Homo sapiens: one gene and its partner. The protein of the gene in region 1 interacts with the protein of each later gene in a pairwise test. Each region holds a gene or a part of one and is shown on either strand. Other genes may lie near its edges.

The links. The genes of interacting proteins can lie anywhere in the genome.
Region 2: the proteins of TBX18 (region 1) and PLEKHG4 interact in binary tests that used the Homo sapiens proteins (3 or more experiments, as listed by UniProt).

The regions. Positions count from the first base shown.
Region 1 is NC_000006.12:84,737,099-84,740,598, forward strand, and holds part of TBX18 (T-box transcription factor TBX18), read right to left. Parts: intron 1,494-3,500; coding exon 1,399-1,493; intron 312-1,398; coding exon 1-311. UniProt on the Homo sapiens protein: Acts as a transcriptional repressor involved in developmental processes of a variety of tissues and organs, including the heart and coronary vessels, the ureter and the vertebral column.
Region 2 is NC_000016.10:67,282,532-67,286,031, forward strand, and holds part of PLEKHG4 (puratrophin-1), read left to right. Parts: coding exon 1-110; intron 111-210; coding exon 211-327; intron 328-1,743; coding exon 1,744-1,926; intron 1,927-2,181; coding exon 2,182-2,684; intron 2,685-2,758; coding exon 2,759-3,005; intron 3,006-3,500. UniProt on the Homo sapiens protein: Possible role in intracellular signaling and cytoskeleton dynamics at the Golgi.

The sequences.
Region 1 (3,500 bases):
CATGGACATGTTCACGGAGGTGCTGCTGCTCACGCCCACATAGGAGGGAGTCCTGGGCGGGGCAAAGGTCTCACCAGCCTGGTTGGTGAGCCTGTTGTAGGTCTCTGCCAAAGATGTGCTGTATCGGTTGAGGGTGAGGCCTGAGCGGGCACAGGCAGAATAGTCAGCAGGGGCCAGACTACACAGCTGGCTGGTGTTGGGCCCCAGATGGAAGGCAGGAGAGGAGCAAGAGGAGCCAGACAAAAGGTGAGGGTGAGTGGCAGGAACGCCATTCCCAGTACCTTGGAGCAAGGTGGAGGAACTTGCATTGCCTACAAAAGAAGTTGAAATGTAAAGAATGACTCCACAGTCATCCTTTCCTTTCAATTTTGTAAATATGAGCTAGACACAGCTTGTTACAAGGCAAGGGTTGGAGGAATGCTACAGAGATGAAAAGGAGATGGTCTCAGCTTTCAAGGAATTATCTGGTTGAAAAATCTCATTTCCAATTAGAAAACAAGTTGTTGAATCACATGCTAATACAAGAGCAGAGGTCCAACAAATCAACAGTCCTGTGAAACTTAGAGAGGGTAGTTAACCCTGTGTCCAACCAATGGCAGTGATGGTGCCCCCTCTGGATCTGCTGGCAGACTGATGTTTGCAAACTTGACAGAACTTAAGGGGAGAGGAGAATTCCAAAGGGCTGGACAGGTTGTAAAACCTTCATTGCTGTATTGATGGTGTTTTATATAGTGTCTCAAAATAATCCAAAAGCCCAATCCAACCAATAATAATTATCTGAAACCCAGCATAGCAAATTCTCACTGGAATCTGGGCAGGATGATGGTAAAAAGCCTGAATGTAGAAGTGAGCTGAGAGTGTTACCTATGGAGCAGACCAGAGAGGAAGCAACATCGCTTTCCATGCAGTTCCCTCTGAGAAGAAATCAGCCCTGGGCTGCTGAGAAATATTCAGAGATGAGCCCAGGAGGGTCTGCCTGAATGTGCCTGACCTTCCTCATCGTTAACCCAACAGGAGAACCCTACCCAGAGGCAATTCTGCTGAAGAAAGAAAACAAACAAGATCTGAAGAAAGGGTGGACTGGGGGCACCATCAACAATTTCTTGTGAACAGGACCTGGCATCAGAGCACCTCTAATTTTAATACGAGATTTAAGGATGAGGTAAAGGTCATGAAATATACAAACAGCCTAAGACATCTAAGATTTAATCTGTGACCATGAGAGCCGTTTTTTCCTGATCCATCCCCATACCATGCAGAAGACAGATGGAATCTGTAGGACAATGCTGGTGATGAGGTCATTATTGTAAGTATAAATAATGACTTGTACACTTTTAGTGCCTGAGTTTCTAGGCAGGAACGGGCTGTATATATGACCCAGGAGACTTTGTGAGTTACCTTGCTTGGGAATTCCAGGGATATCTTCAAAGGTCAGAGTCCGTAGTGATGGTCGCCAGAATGCATATGATTCCACCAAGGCTTCCAAACCCATTCTAAATGGAAAGGGTCAGGATAGGGGTGGACAAAAGAAGTCTAGTTAGGAGCATTTGGATCTTTCACCAGCAGCAAGCATCTCAAAACAACACTGATATTGACAGTACCCCCACACTGTCCAGTTAGGATCTTGCCACTGGCAAGAAGAAATGCTTCAGCAATGGGCTAACATCCTGTTACCAGCAGCAGGAGAGAACTGAAATCACCCACCCAAGATGCCTGTTAATGTTCTCAGGAAAACTCAGCTGACCTGAAGGGTGAAAAGCTGTTCCCTTGGGCTAAGGAGCTGAGATGAAGAGAGTCCCTCCTGGCTGCTGTGAGTCCAAGGCTCTGCTGTGATCTGGAACACACCCACTCTCCTTGTCCTGTTACTTCTCCCTCTAAGTGAGGAAGGCATTGCCACAAAAGCACATTCCTAGAAAACCAGCTCTTTTCTAAGGGTCATTACTGCCCATCATTTGGTGCCTCAGCAGCCAGCTCAGGGAAGCACTCCTCCAAAGAAGACTGACTTCTCTCTCAGGAGCACAATCTCTACTACACCCAGTGTAGCCAGGCTGGGCTCCCACCAGCAACAGGAGGGCCATGAAGAAACAGCACTGGCCTCTCCCTGCAGTGTGTGGGAGGAGAGCAGGAAGGTGACCTCACAGGGCTATCTAGTATATAGAGTTACTATTAAATCACAAATTATTTTAAAACCCTGAAATACACTTAATGAATGGATACTTAAAGAGACAGGGTAAGTTTCATATGGACTACTTACATGACATACGTATATTTTAAAACAAGGGCAACTACTCTAAATACATATATCAACCATCTCCTACCATGAATGATTCAGAGACTTCCCCTCTGTATATCAAGTGACTAAGTCCTCTGGGTTCTGGGAATGAGGCCATTCACTCAACTAGATCATTCTCAAGACAGCCACACCTGAGACCTCATCACTCTTCCTTCAACCACCTCAGCCCTAAGTAATTTGTTGATCTAGGTAACATTACACTTTTAATGAAACCTGTAGCTCCACTGTAGAAAATACTTGCTTCCTGGGATATCCAATAATAGACATCTCCTTTAATAGTTTGACTCAAGGTGCTACCACCTCTGGAGTCCCTGCGCCCCAAGTCATAACCTGCAAACTAAGACTAGAGGAATCCACCCCAGAGAGTCATACCACATACACAATATGGTGAAAGCTCTCTAAACACCAGAGGTAAGTGATTTGTGCCAATAAAACTATCTTACACTACTTGTCCATCTGTTCCAAGGCTTCACACACAGAATTTACTTCCTTAGAGTGTTCAGGGTATAGTCTCTGTTAATTGATTTCTGTACTCATTCTGGAGGAATACGCCTACCCCATCTTAGTGACAGAATGATGTAGCTATGCATGTGTGGAGGGGTGGTGTGTATACATGCACAGGCTTGCATGCACAAACACACCTCATGAGGCTGCACATAAGCCTGACTCATCTCTTAAGTCACAGGCTCTGGGGGTGCAGCTCTGAGGGCACTTCAAAGAGATGTCTGCAGCCCCAGAGGGGATAGTGCAGGATTGCCAAAGAAAAGAGCAGAGCACAGAGGGGACCTGCACCTGCTCCACCTGGCCTACCCTGAGAGAGAACAGAATCTGGCTTCAGATGTAATCAATGTGCCACAGAGAGAGAATTATTTAGTGGTAAGGATACTAGATTGGGGTCAGAAAGACTGCACTGGCACTGCAACTCACTAAAACTCATTGTCTGACCTTAAGCAAATTTGCTAATCTCCCTGGACTTCAGTTTCTCACAAAGAAAGGATGAGATTACAAAAGGTCTGAAACCCTTATTAATCCTAACATTGTTTCATTCTAAGAGATTTTTTTTCCAAACCAGTCATCATATCTGTGGCCAAACTACAAGCCAAATCCAAGTTCATGCCACTTGATAGTATTTTCTGTACTAGTGTATTGATTTCTGGGCAGTTTGGCAGACCTGGTCAGTTCCAAACCACATGTTGCCTGTGGGTAT
Region 2 (3,500 bases), on another chromosome or scaffold:
ATGACCGGGTGGATGGATTGCTGCACCAACTGACCCTGCAGAGCAACCAGCGAATACAGGCCCTAGAGTTGGTCCAAACACTGGAGGCCCGGGAAAGCGGACTGCACCAGGTCGGAACTACTTGCCCAGAGTGGGCCCTGCCCCGATCTCAGACGTGAGCCCCCAGTCCATAGCAGCTCTCTTCACTTTTCCCTGCTTGTGCTCCTCCAGATTGAAGTGTGGCTGCAGCAGGTGGGCTGGCCAGCACTGGAGGAGGCTGGGGAGCCCTCGCTGGACATGCTGCTCCAGGCCCAAGGCTCTTTTCAGGAGCTGTACCAGGTTGCCCAGGTATATGTGGTCACTTGTTCATGCCACGGGTATTGGGATGCAATGCCAGGAACTAGGAATGCAGAACTGTGTGAAAGCAATTCAATCCTTTGCTTTCTTAGACCTTATAGTCCCATAGAAGATATCAGTTGTAATTAATCACAGTCATATATGTGCCTGTAAACCCAGGCAAGATCTCTGGAGAGAATCAGTGCAGGTGATTCTGCCTGAGGGTATAACCAAGACTTTACCCAGCAGGAGTGTCAGGCAAGCTTTTTTTGGGTGATTTTTGAGCTGAGAGTTGAAAGATAAGTTGAGGTCAACCAGGCAGAAGAGGGTTGAGGATGGGGGCACATTCCAGGCTTGGAAGATAGCATGTGCAAAGGTCCTGTGGCAGGATGGAGGACGGTGTGCCTGAGGAATCATAAGGCCAGTGAGGTTGAAATGCAGAGCAGAGAGGAAGAAAGAGTTGGGGGAGTTGCGGTGGGACAAGCCTGGTCAGTGGCCACATCACTGGGCCCTGTAGCAGTCAGTGTGGAGTTTAATCAGGAAGGCCATGTAATCAGATCCATATTCTAGGAAGATTGCCTTCGTTTCCGAGTAGACAGTGACTTGGAGGATGGGCATGGGGAGTGCAGTGAAGAGGCAATTGCAGTAGTCTAGGTGGGAAATAGTGCCTCCTCTGGCCAGGATAGTGGCAGGGGAGACGGGTTGGAGAAGTTGATGGGATTTGCTATGTACCCATGTGGGAGGGTAAGGGACAAGGATGTTGCAAGGATGAATGGGTGCTGTTCCCTGAGAGACTAGGAGATGAGGTCATCTTGGGGGAAGGGCATTCAAGAGTCCGGTCTTGGGCATGCTCGAGATGGCTGTGAGGGATGAGAGGAGGGCCCTTGGGTCTTGGGCCTGGAGCTCAGAGGAGAGGTCTAGCTGGAGAGGATCACTTGGTGGGTCCAGGTGTTTGGATGACATTTGAAGTTGGTCACACAAGAGTGCCTGGGAGAGCGAGTGCACTGTCCTCAGGATCCCCAGTGTTTAATGGCCTAGGTGAGGGAAGGGGAGCAGGACGAGCCACCAGAGAAGAGTGAGGAGAATCAGGAGCGTGGGGAGGAGCTGGGGGAGCCCAGTAGAGAGTGGGCTGAATGACGCTGAGAGTTGGAGTCAGTGAGGCCTGAGAAGCGCTGGGGACGGGGCAGAGTGGAGCTGGAGAGGGCTGGTGCGGAGGGCGAGACGAGACGGTGAGGACAGATGATTCCTCTAGGAACTTTGGCTGTGGAGAAGGGGAGTGGATGTGGGTGGGGAGTAGGAGATACGGGTAGATGTTCCACCACAGGACAGACTTGATGGGGACATGTCGATATGTCAGCAGGAAGTATCTGAGTCTGGGGGCTAGACCGCCAGGCCTGGGCTGGCTGAGCCTAGTCTCTGTCTCTGCAGGAGCAGGTCAGGCAAGGGGAGAAGTTTCTGCAGCCGCTGACTGGCTGGGAGGCGGCTGAACTGGACCCCCCTGGGGCACGCTTTCTGGCCCTGCGAGCCCAGCTGACTGAATTCTCTAGGGCTTTGGCCCAGCGGTGCCAGCGGCTGGCGGATGCTGAGAGGCTGTTTCAGCTCTTCAGGGAGGTGGGTGAGAGTCTCCCCAGCTCCAAGTGATCCATGAGGCCGGAGGGATGGCAGCCCCAGCTTCAGCAGAGCCTGAGCTTTTCTTGGTCATGCTGCCTGTTCTCTTCCCTGGTCTTCAGTTTGACCCTAAAACCCAGTCACTGGGGCTGTGTCCTGGACAGCATCCTGTGGGGATGGGGAGTGGGTAGAGGAGCAGAGTGCCCAGCAGGCTTGGCAGGATCTTCCTCTAATGCTTGTCCGGCCCTGGTGTTGCAGGCCTTGACGTGGGCTGAGGAGGGGCAGCGAGTGTTGGCAGAGCTGGAGCAGGAACGCCCGGGGGTTGTGTTGCAGCAGCTGCAGCTGCACTGGACCAGGCACCCTGACTTGCCTCCTGCCCACTTCCGAAAGATGTGGGCTCTGGCCACGGGGCTGGGCTCAGAGGCCATCCGCCAGGAGTGCCGCTGGGCCTGGGCGCGGTGCCAGGACACCTGGCTGGCCCTGGACCAAAAGCTTGAGGCTTCACTGAAGCTACCACCGGTGGGCAGCACAGCTAGCCTGTGTGTCAGCCAGGTCCCCGCTGCACCTGCCCACCCTCCCCTGAGGAAGGCCTACAGCTTCGATCGGAATCTGGGGCAGAGTCTCAGTGAACCTGCCTGCCACTGCCACCATGCGGCCACTATTGCTGCCTGCCGCAGACCAGAGGCTGGAGGAGGTGCCCTGCCCCAGGCATCCCCTACTGTGCCTCCACCAGGCAGCTCTGACCCCAGGAGCCTCAACAGGTATGGGCAGTAGGCAGGGCGGGGAGGGCAGTAAAGGAGAGATGTCTTGGGTCCTGACTCCCCATACCTGGTAGGCTACAGCTGGTGCTGGCAGAGATGGTGGCCACGGAGCGGGAGTATGTCCGGGCTCTAGAGTACACTATGGAGAACTATTTCCCCGAGCTGGATCGCCCCGATGTGCCCCAGGGCCTCCGCGGTCAGCGTGCCCACCTCTTTGGCAACCTGGAGAAGCTGCGGGACTTCCACTGCCACTTCTTCCTGCGTGAGCTGGAGGCTTGCACCCGGCACCCACCACGAGTGGCCTATGCCTTCCTGCGCCATGTAAGCCCGACAGGCCATGTGGTATCAGCTCGTTCTGCCACACTCCCGAAGTTGCTGCTGGGCACATGCTTGGTGCCAGTCCCTGTGCTATGAGTATAGCTATGAGCAAGACTGGCAGGCTCCTGCACCTGAGGGTGCTCTTAGTCCAGTAGAGGAGACATAGAAGCAAGAACGATACTTGTAGATTATAGTTGGGGCTAGGAGGAAAATAAGCAGGATAGATGCTTGTGAATTACTGGCGGGGCAGGGGCTCCACTTTAGAGGGCCTGAGTGCGGTGCCAGGACACCTGGTACAAGAGGAAGTCTTTGAGAGGCTGATGTTTAAGCTGAGGAATAGGGGAGGGGCTGGAGTGAGTGTCCCACCCAGAGGAAAGAGCAAGTACAAGGTCGTGTGGAGGAAAGGGGGCCTGCCAAGGAGGTGGCTGAGTGTAGTGAGCAGGACAGTCCCAGGTGAGGTGAGCTCTTAGAGCCGTGGGAGGAGCAGAGCTGAAGGCA